Linked DNA regions of Homo sapiens: regions 2, 3 and 4 are each linked to region 1. The links come from fine-mapping of genetic effects on gene expression. A gene starts in region 1. Each other region holds a variant in brackets. All regions are shown on one strand. Distances are from middle to middle. Region 1 holds the start of CAPZB (capping actin protein of muscle Z-line subunit beta). Region 2 has its middle 20 kb from the start of SLC66A1. Region 3 overlaps CAPZB (capping actin protein of muscle Z-line subunit beta). Region 4 overlaps CAPZB (capping actin protein of muscle Z-line subunit beta).

Region 1 (2,500 bases):
AGTTTACCATCCCCTCACAGATCGCCTAATTTGATTTAACCAAAGCAAACAGGCCACGGAGGCAGATATTGTTAGCAATCCAGATCTCTCCTGCTACCTAGACTAAGCTTAACAAATATTTGATTGAGAGAGAGAGAGAGAGATTGGGAGAGAGAAACTTGAGTCACTTTGTGGAGCGAGGAAGCCCTTCTGGGCTAATGGAATGGTTCTCTGTAGCACATTCAACAGTACTCATAACAGCTAGCATTTGTTGAACTTAATTTTTTTTCTTTTGAGACAGAGTCTTGCTCTGTCGCCAGGCTGGGGTGCAGTGGCGCGATCTTGGCTCACTGCAACCTCTGCCCCCGGGTTCAAACGATTCTCCTGCCTCAGCCTCCCGAGTAGCTGGGACTATAGGAGCGAACCACCACGCCCAGCTAATTTTTGTATTTTTAGTAGAAACGGGGTTTCACCATGTTGGCCAGGATGGTCTCGATCTCTTGACCTTGGCCCGCCTCGGCCTTCCAAAGTGCTGGGATTACAGGCGTGAGCCACCGCGGCCGACCTGTTGAACTTAATTTTCTAATCTCTACCTGTGTCATCCTCACAGATATTCTGTCTGCAGCTATACCGGCAGGGATCTTTATGTCTTATCTGTTATCTTCCGGTGCCTAAACAAGGCCTGGCACATAGTAGGTGCTGAATAAATGGCGTCAGCCCGAGGCTCCTCAATTCGTGCCCGGGCTCAGGTGCAGCGCGGCGCTCCAGATCCTGCCGTAGCGAGCGGCAGCGCTGGGCTCCTGCCCCGCTCCCGGCGCGCTCCCCCAGTGCTGGGTTGGGCTGGGTTGGGCTGGGCCGGGCCGGTCCGCGCTCGGCGGCAGTTCCGGGTGCGCCGCAGGAGTGAGCGCGTGCACGGGGTGGGGCGCGGAGGGCCGGTCCCCTCCCAGCCGCGGTGCCTTCCGCATCCCCGCCCGCGGGGACTGTGGGGTGCGGTTCCCTCGCCGCCACTCGCTGCTGCAGGCCCAGAGTCGGGGACTGGACCTCAGACAGCCAGGAGACCTTTCCGCCCCGGCCCGCAACCCGTGCCGGGGACTCCCGGCAGCCGCGCCGCGCAGCGCCGCGCCCCGCCCCGCCTCGCAGGCCCCGCCCCCGCACCCCGTCGGCGCCCGCCTCTCGCGCCGCTCTCCATACTTGGCGATCGCCGCAGCCCCGCGCGCTCATTGGCCGCGAGCTGGCGGCGTGGGGGGCGGGCCCGGGCCGGGCCGGGGCGGGGAAGGAAGGTGGCGGCGGCCCGGCGCGGGGGGAGGGGGGTGCTGACCCGGATGTTCACTCCTGGGCACCCGGGGAAGTGGAAGCGCCGGGCCCTGCTGCGGGGGGGAGAGCCACTGACGCCGGGACCGGGACCGCCGCCGCCGCCGCCACCATGGTAAAGGCCGCACGGCCCCCTCCCCGGCCCGGGGGCCCCTCCGGAGCTCGCGTCCCCCTCCCCCTGCCCATCCCTGGCCTGGGACGGGTGGCTTCCCGGGGTGGGGGAGGGGCGGGGTCCCGGACCCTGGGTGGACCCGGTCCCTCCCCGCCCAGGAGGGTGCCGCCGGCGCGGACGACTTGGGTGGCAGTGACCCTGCCCCCGCTCCCAGCCCCCGCCCTTGGCGCAAGCTGGAGTCCCACTCACTACCTCTGTGTTCAGGCTGGTCTCTCCCATAGCCCAGGCTAGACCCTCCCTCCCGAACCGTGTCCCCAGCCAGGCACCCCCTCGGTGACCCTGGCGTGGGCCCCCTTCCTCCCCCGGTCTAGGGCTAGGTCTGCTTTCCCCCGTCTCTCCGGCCCAGGCTAGGCCGTCGTTTCTCCCTGCCATGGCCCAGGCTAGGCCGCTGCCTCCCTCTGTCCCTCCCCCTTTGCCTTCTCCATGGCCTCAGGCTGGACCCCGGTCAGCCCCTTCTGCAGCGGCCTAGGTTTGCTTCCCCTCTTCTCCGTGGCCTCAGCCTGAATCTCCTCTTCTCTCTGTGAACTTAAATCTGGACCTCCTCTTCTCCGCCCATGGCCCCCGTCTGGACCTCACTGCCCCCTCCCCACCATGATCCCCTTCCCTGGACTTTTCGCCACTCCTAGCGTAACCTGCGTCAGCCCCGCTCGGTCCCCGCCCTGAGCCTCTCATCAGGGTCCTGCCCCCTGCCTGGTGCACGACCCAGGGTCCCCTTCCCTGTACCTGGGGCGCGCCTTCTTTGCAGCCTTTGGGGAGCGAGGGGAGCTCTCCATCAGGGATGGGGTGGTCCCGGTGCTGTGCCTTCTCAGTTGCCGCTTCTAGGGAGGCCGCCTAGGAGCCAGCGAGGGAAGGGCGGGCATCGGTGTGCCCAGAAGGCAGCGCGCTGCTCTGCGGGCCCTTCTCGAGGCTGCCGCCGTGGGTGCTGTGCGTGCGAAGCATTCTGCAGGGCAGGCCGGGGTCCACGGCGCCCGGGCCTGAGTGGGAGCCGAGGGGCGAGGATGGGTGGCCCACAGGACAAGGATGAACGCACAATCGCCC
Region 2 (2,693 bases), 150 kb after region 1:
TGCAGCCTTGACCTCCAGGGCCCAAGCAATCCTCCCACCTTAACCTCCCAGGTAGCTAGGTCTACAGGTGCACACCACCACGTTGCCCAGGCTGGTCTTGAACTCAGCTTACGCAATCCACCTGCCTCAGCCTCCCAAAGTGTTGGGATTCCAGGCATGAGTCGCCTCACCTGGCCAGTGGATCAGTTTAAAGCTTTACCATCTGGGGTAGTTGAGGCTCTGCACCTGGCTGTCACCCGGCACCTCTGGGGTCCCGTCATTCAGCTCCGATGAAAGCCAAGTCACACAGACAGAAAGGGTGGAGAGTGGTGAAGGTTGTGGCTTTCTCCCCTTCCTCGGCTTCAGGAATGGAAGGCCATGTCGTCTTGGCTGTGGCTTCAAAACCCTGGAATCCCAGCAAATTTGGGAGGCTGAGGTGGGAGGATCACTTGAGCTTAGGAGTTTGAGAACAGCCTGCTGGGCAACATGGCGAAACCCCATCTCTACCAAAAATACAAAAACTAGCTGGGCGTGGTGGCACTCAAGTGGGAGGATCACTTGAGCCCAGGAGGTGGAGGCTGCAGTAAGCCAAGATCGTACCACTGCACTCCAGCCTGGGTGACGGAGTGACTCTGTCTCAAAACAAAAACAAAAAACCAGGTTTGATAACTAATGGGACCTTGGGGCTGAGAGAGCCAGGGAGGGCGCGGGGTCCAGTGCTCGGCACAGGGCTGCCAGGACCATCCCTTCTGCTTTGCTGGAGAACGCCACCAGCTAAGCAACCAGCTTTTCTGTCCCATCCCATCCCCGGAACCTGAGGAAGCGAAGCAGCGTGTGTGCACAGCACTGGGCCAGGCACTGCGCATGTCACTTCCCCATACAGTGTCTCGTTCAACAGGTAAAACAGAACCTGCCAAGGCGGGGACCTCTGGGGGTGCCTGGCCCAACCTCATGCTCCATGTGGGCGTCCTAAGGGAGCCAGCCCTTCCTGGACAAGGGCAACTGGTAAGC[G/A]TGGTTCCATTTCCTTGATCACACCAAACTGTCCACACTTTTCCCTTCAGGCCACACCTGGAGACAAGCATCCTGCCATCCCATGACCTGCAGGAAGGAGCAGGAGGTGTAAGCCAGGGAGAAAGGGAAGCCACCTGTGGAGGCGTTTAACTTGGTAACATGTTTGCCCACCATCAGCAAACACGGCCCCATCAGTATGGCAGAATCCCATCGATGAGATTCGCCTTTATTGTAATTTTTTAAATTTTTGTAGAGATGGGGTCTTGCTATGTTGCCCAAGTTGGTCTTGAACTCCTTGGCTCAAGTGATCCTCCTGCCTCAGCCTCCCAAAATGCTGGGAATACAGGCGTGAACCACTGCACCCGGCCTTGGCCCTTCTCTTTGTGAGGAACCTGGGGGAGGTTCCAGGCATTGGTAAGCCCCCTGATGACAAGCAAATATAGCCATTGTTTATTTACCAGGCACTTACTGTGTGCCAGGTGCTGGGACACGAGCCTCCGTGCTCATCTTGATCACGGCTATGTTCTGAGGCAGACAGTGTTGTTGGTCTCATGGGATGAAGAAACGGCTTCGGACATCTGCTCAAGTCACAAGGCTCAGTGGCTGGGGCACACTTGGAGCTCAGTGTGCAGGACACAAAGTCTGTGCTCCCCGTCACCTGCCTCCAGCATCAGAATGTCACCAGCTCCTTCAACAGGGCTCCAGGGACCCAGGCCACCAAGTTCTTCCAGCCCCAACAGTTTGAATCCTCCTTGGGGCGCTGGAATGAGGCCTCCAAGGGAGAGGAGACTCAGGTTTGGATGAGCTGCAGGCCAGGTGCTCTCTGAAGGTAGGGGCTGTATCGCCTCCATCACACAGGGCACTCCCCAGGGGGAGGGGCCATGTCTTCCCCATCAGATTGGAGGCCTCCTGAGGAAGGAACCATAGCTCCTGCCTGAAAGTGCTATCACCCCAAAAGCTGGTGTTTCCCAGGAGGAAGGGATTATGTCACCCCATCAGAGAAGGGCCTCCAAGCAGGGGCTATGTTATCCCATCTCACTCTTCCCCACCCGGCCCCAGTTCAGGACCACACTTGGGGCTCATGTGGCTATACTGTGCCCCCAGATCTTCAGGCTGGAAGGGCACCTACTGGTCCCAGGTAACTGGTGTGGAGCCAGGTCCCAGACCCAGGTGGAGCGAGACATCTAGCTGGCACCTGAGGCAGGCACAGGCCAGGGCAAGCTGGGGCTTCGGGCCTGGGGGTAACTTATCCTGAAATCTCGGCAGGGCCAGAGGCTCAGCAAAGTCGCTATTCAGGATGGTGAGAAGGGAGCCTGGGTCCAGCAGGGTTCGGGCCACTCCTGAGGGTGAAGCTGAACTGCCACAAGCCATGGGCCCCCAGCAAGGATGGAGGAAGGGGACACGGGCCGCCAGCGTTGGCCAGGTGTGGGGTGGCTCCCAAAGCTGGAGGGTCTCGTGTTGCTGCTGCTCCTAGCTGGGCAAGCTGCTCAATTGTGCTGAGACTGTTCTCCCATCTGTAAAATGGCCATAAAAATACTCCCATCTTGGCCGGGCGCGGTGGCACACCTGTAATCCCAGCACTTTGAGAGGCTGAGGCAAGCAGATCACCTGAGGTAAGGAGTTCGAGACCAGCCTGGCCAACATGGTGAAACCCCGTCTCTACTAAAAATACAAAAATTAGCTGAGCGTGGCGGCAGGCGCCT
Region 3 (2,738 bases), 130 kb after region 1:
ATCTCTTTCGGTAAGATAATTATGCTCTCAATAGCTGTGGATAGAAAAAATATGACCGAAAGGATCGATGCAGTAAAATTTTTTTTTTTTTTTTTTGAGACGGAGTCTCGCTCTGTCACCCAAGCTGGAGTACAGTGGTGTGATCTCGGTTCACTGCAATCTCTGCCTCCCGGGTTCAAGCGATTCTCCTGCCTCAGCCTCCCGAGTAGCTGGGATTACAAGCGTGCACCACCACGCCCAGCTCATTTTTTGTATTTTTAGTAGAGATGGGATTTCACCATGTTGGCCAGGCTGGTCTTGAACTCCTGACCTCAAGTGATCCGCCCACCTCGGTCTCCCAAAGTGTTGGGATTACAGGCATAAGCCACCACACCCGGCCCAGTGTAGTAAATCTTTTAAGTGAATTTGCATTCTACTAGTTACAACAACATCTACATGCATTGAAAAAATAGTGGCGCAAGGTGAATGTCAGCCGTCATACCTGGGACCCTCCCTCCACCTATAGAAGCTCCACTGCCTCTCCTGTGTCAGAGGGGCTGGAGGCCAGAAGGGATGTTGCGGTCCTCTTTTTGGCCTCTGGGCAGGGATGTCACAGTCCCATCCCAGGACTACTCACTAGTGCACACAGGGGGCACTTAGCCTTTTTGCGTGGAAGTGGACTCCTATCTTCCAGGGGCCATTGGCTAGGGAGGAACAGCCAAACCCCCAGGCAGCCAGCTCCCCTGCAGCCTGACTCTCCCACATCCTGCCACCTGGGGAGTGGGTGGAAAATCCTGAATCTGTATCCAGAGACTGCTTCCTGTATCACTTACCACTCCAGGCTGTTGATAATTCCACCCGGTTTACAGTGACCTGGACAAATATTTAATCCTCAGCCCTCCTAATAGTTTAAATCAGAGCTGTCAGCCCATGGCCAGAGTCTGGTTCCGGCTTGCCGTGAGCAGTGTCTCCTGCCAAGCTAAACCCAGGCCTGATGAGTGCCTGTCCTCAGCACACCTTGGCCAGGGCTTCGGACTTTGTTTGCGTTGCCTTTTGCTCTGGGGGCTTTAATGAGGAAATTAATGCTCTGCCATCATTCTAACGGCCGATCACCACATCATTCATTTGAGGTGCATTAAAGCTGGGGCTGGGTTCCAATGTAAGTAACTACAGAAGGGGGAGGGATTGCAATGAGGTAGACAAATCTAAGTTAATGATGCACAGCTTCTGAGCAAACAGGGGAAGTGAGGGTTGCAGAGCTTGGCTACGGGTCCCAGAGGAGCCTTGGAAAAACGCCTGTGCTTGTTTGGATGGGAGGCGAAGGGTTCTGGGAGAAGTGAGCAGCTCAGTGAGCATGAACATGCATGGTTTGCAGGCTGTCCCCTTGGATTAGATTGTAACCAAGGTCAAGTTATTCTCATTTAACAGGTGAGGAAACTGAAGTTCAAACTTAAATAATTTGCCCATATAATTTAACCAGTAAGAAGCAAAGCTGGGATGTGAACCCAGATTTGCCTGGTGAGAAAAAAATATGCTACTTTCTACCATGCCACAACTGTTTTGGTCTTAATTC[G/A]TCCTCTGTGCCTGCCATTCGGTGACTGCTAAATAGTCAGATGGAAGTGCATGGAGCAGTCAGCTCAGTGTAGACAGGACTCTGTCTCAGCAGCCGGCATGAGCAGCTGCAGTGGACCTGTAGCCTCAGGAGCAAGCAGGCCCCGCAAGCAGGATCAACCCTGCAGAGCCGCACACGGCGTCAAGGCTCCCCAGGTGTGTGCTGAGCAGCGCTGCCCTCTGGGCCCCTCCCGCAGGTGTGCCTTTGTCTTTCAGGATGATCTCCTGCTGGAAGCCACTTGGCCACTGGGGTGTGTTCACTACTAGAGGCTGTCAGGAGGGCTTTGAGGTTTCTAGGGAGTCCAATGATCTGATTGGATCTGTGTTTTCAGAAGGTGGCTCTGCCAGTCGGCTTGGGGGATGGGTGGTCAGGGGGAAGCTGTTACAGTCATCAAGGAGAGAGATGACAAGGGCCTGGATCAGGCAGCCCTGGGAGGGTCAGAGGGGACAGCCCTGCAGCAGAGAGGTCAGTGAAGAAGCTAGTGTCAGTCTGAGGCATGAGGTGGCAAGGGCAGAAACAGAAGGGCAGGGGAAGAGGGGCAGGCTGGGGGGCATTCTGGCGTGGCGTGGTCAGGGGCTGGACGACCAAGATGTGAGGTGGGGGTCAGATGAGAGCCCCTCACTCGAGTTCCTCCTTACACAGTCCTTACAGCAACCTGGGCCTGGGTTTTTCCTCTGGAAACCTGGCCTCATCCAGGTCACCCACGCTCACATGCCCTTGCCCCACGTGTGTCAGGAAGGAAGGCTGCTTGGTTTTGGAGCTGTCTCCCCAGGCCCACAGTGCCAGGCCCTAGCCCCAAGAGCCATCCCAGCCAGCATCAGCACCCTCAGCAAGGCCCCATGGGTCCTCAGCTTTCCCAGGGTCCTGTGGCCCAGCCTGCCTCACCCCGGCAGCAGCGGCAGCTGCCCTTCCCTGTGTGTGGCCCCGGGCGCACCCTTGTCTTCCTGTTTCCCACGGCCCATCTGGAGAAGGCCGCCAGCTTTGGCTTGCTGGCACCTCGCAGGGGTCCCTTCCGTGGGCACATCAGGCTATGCCCTGTGCCCACTCGTGCCCCAGTGTAGGCGGCTGGTGGTAGGCCAGTGGCCGGGGCAGAGCGCCACTCTCCTGGGCACGTGGCCTGCCAGCCAGCCAGAACACAGCCAGACCA
Region 4 (2,738 bases), 55 kb after region 1:
TTGAGACGGAGTCTCACTCTGTCACCCAGGCTGGTGTGCAGTGGTGCAATCTCGGCTCACTGCAAGCTCCGCCTCCTGGGTTCACGCCATTCTCCTGCCTCAGCCTCCCAAGTAGCTGGGACTACAGGCGCCCGCCACCACGCCCAGCTGATTTTTTGTATTTTTAGTAGAGACGGGGTTTCACCGTGTTAGCCAGGATGGTCTTGATCTGCTGACCTCGGCCAGATGGTCTTGATCTCCTGATCTCCACCCACCTTGGCCTCCCAAAGTGCTGGGATTACAGGCATGAGCCACCGTGCCCGGCCCAAAATCAACTCTATTCTTAAATTTTGACTGATGATTAAACTACAGGTTTCTTATCCGAAATGCTTGGGACCAGAAGCATTTTGGATTTGAGACTTCTTTGGATTCTTTTCAGATTTTGAATATTTGCAGAACTTACTGGTTGACCATTCCTAATCCGAAAGTCTGATATGCTCGTTGGAGCCTCATGTCTTCGCTCAAAAAGTTTGGGATTTGGATTTTTGGGTTAGGGCTGTTCAACCTGTATAAGCAGAAGCGCTAAACTGTGTACTAAAGAGATTTGTTTTCTGGTCATGGTTCATTTGCCATTATGTGATGTCTCATTTGTTATGGGTCAGTCCAGGCCTCAATTTTCCACCGTTTATATGGTTTCTAGGGTCCCCTTTAGTGTAACATCCCTGTTGATTCTGTGTTTTAAAGTTGGACAGGTGGAGGGGTATGCACACCCAAGAGAAAATGCTCCAGCTCACTCAGTTGGCCAGCAGAGCCAAGCACAGTGCCTGAGAAACGTGGCGGAGAGCCATCCTGAGCAATGAGTTTGTTGGTTGTCATGTGACCCAGGGTTTTTCTGTGCATCAGGTTAGCCCATTGTATATGTTGTAAAAAGCAGGCAGTGCTTGCCTTTAGGTAGAGCTGCTTGGAAGCTTCAGTGCACGGCTCAGGGATCAGCAAGCTCTCTGAGGTGCGGGTGCAGGTGCGGGTGCGGGTGGGCGGCCGCCAGCTGTGTGCTAGGAGTGACTAAAGTTGGTGGGTGCAGGGGTAAGAGATATATGCCTTAAAGGGGAAATAGAAGAGCAGCAGAATAAACCCCTGCATACTCTTCCTTGCTGGGCAGCGACTCTGCTTTGCCAATTAAAATGTGCTTGTACAGCCACCCTCCTCTGGCACTCTGGATGGCTAACTCCTTTTGGAGAATTTTTGTCATTTCGCCAGGTTCACCAGGTAAGCTTTGATCTCTGCAAAGGAACTGTTCTGTGTTCAGCAATTAGAGGTTTTGGAGTGTAAACAGTGAATTGGTTATCCAAAAAAACTACAGTGGAAGTATAGCTCCGACTCCTGAGTATGACTCATTTCGGATATTTCACTTCCTGGAGGGATGTGTAAGGGAAAGATCAACTGATGGCTGTTGTAGAGTTTGACACAGAGCCTGTGTGTAGTGTGTAGGTTGCTAAGTTTTCCTCTGGAATAAATATGCCAGGGAGAGGCGCGTGGAAATTTTCCTTGCCAGGGAGGGTGTCAGGGTAGTTTGGGGACTCTGCT[A/C]GTGCTGCCACAGTTGTCTGGTTTCGATGGCCTCAGATGGGGTTGGGAGCACCAGTAAATAGGGAGAAGGTTCAAATAGATGAGATGGTGGAAATATTTCTTGATGCTGTCCTGGGCTGGGGAAATGGAGCAGAGGGCTTCAGAAAGCAAGCTGCATGAGGGAGTTACTAGAGTGCAGGAAAACAAAGGGAAGGTGATCTTCCATGGACACATGTGGAATTCCTTCAGCTCTCACTGTCCCTGCCTCTCTTCTCCTTGTGGCTTTAGGGAAGCCATGTGCTCCGTCGTACTCAGGGCAGGGGCGGTTGTGTGGAGTGAGTGCTGTGCAAGCCTGCCCTCCTTTGTGGGTGCTTAATGACTTGGAAACTGACATAACACTCCGCCTACCTTTCTAGAGACTCCTGGCAGCCTGAATGGAAAACCTGTGTCAAGTGAGGGAAAAATCCAGGCAGAAAGGACCCTCTAGCACCTAAAAAATGTTATGTAAAAGTCCTGGCAGATAAGCCATGTGCTTTACTCTCTGGGAGAGTTCCTACCCTTTATGGAGGATGCTCTGTGGGCGGTGCCCTTATGGCCCAGACGTGGTACCTCATTCCCAGTGGCCCGTGAGGTAGACAGTACCGTCGGACCCAGGTTTTAAAGAAGACTGAGGTTCCAAGGGATGAGGTGGTGACTTGCTTATGCAGGTTGTATGGGAAAGTAGGAATTATTAGTATATCGTATCTCTGCCTTTAGAGTCTTGAACTTCTTCAAGAAAAGGAAGAAGTAATCTTCATATAGTGTCAAGGTACTTACAAACTATTTGTGGGCTGTGACTCTGGACCCCAAGTTATCAACCTGATTTATTCCTTCTCTCAGAGTTTCTTTTTTTTTTTTGTTTGAAATGAGAGCAGATTTCTAATTTTCTGGGTTCTCAACCTCATAGCAGATTAGAAGCAACATATTAGTTGAGGAAGTGTAGCTGACAGCCTGGCAGAAGAAGCAGATAAATGTAAAAAGCAGACACAGGGTGCTGTTCCAAGAGTGGCTACTCATACACTGTCCTTAGGCTAATGAGAAATGGTTTAGCTGTGTTCATTGCATTGTCCTGTGATCATTTGCATTGTGTAAAAATGTAGAGCAGGTAATACATTTTAGAGAGATTGCTGTCTTCTAGAATTTTTTTAAAAAGTTGA

What was found.
Region 2: its variant is fine-mapped to the expression of CAPZB in whole blood (INTERVAL, PIP 0.98).
Region 3: its variant is fine-mapped to the expression of CAPZB in lung (TOPMed, PIP 0.96).
Region 4: its variant is fine-mapped to the expression of CAPZB in whole blood (INTERVAL, PIP above 0.99).

What each region holds. Positions count from the first base shown.
Region 1 is chr1:19,484,341-19,486,840 of GRCh38, reverse strand. CAPZB (capping actin protein of muscle Z-line subunit beta) reads left to right here and starts at 1,302. Exons shown (of 9, transcript NM_004930.5): 1 at 1,302-1,405. The coding sequence starts at 1,403. It also overlaps a transcript of LOC105376819 not described here. RefSeq lists silencers at 726-1,455, 1,486-1,595 and enhancers at 1,500-2,008, 2,009-2,500.
Region 2 is chr1:19,331,153-19,333,845 of GRCh38, reverse strand. It overlaps a transcript of SLC66A1 not described here. Among named protein-coding and RNA genes, the nearest start is that of SLC66A1, 20 kb to the right of the region's middle. The variant G/A (reference allele first, on the strand shown) is at 991.
Region 3 is chr1:19,352,853-19,355,590 of GRCh38, reverse strand. All of the region lies in intron 6 of CAPZB (capping actin protein of muscle Z-line subunit beta), which reads left to right. Among named protein-coding and RNA genes, the nearest start is that of SLC66A1, 42 kb to the right of the region's middle. RefSeq lists an enhancer at 1,664-2,348. The variant G/A (reference allele first, on the strand shown) is at 1,553.
Region 4 is chr1:19,428,985-19,431,722 of GRCh38, reverse strand. The region is part of intron 1 of CAPZB (capping actin protein of muscle Z-line subunit beta); the gene reads left to right. Among named protein-coding and RNA genes, the nearest start is that of CAPZB, 55 kb to the left of the region's middle. RefSeq lists an enhancer at 458-1,346. The variant A/C (reference allele first, on the strand shown) is at 1,564.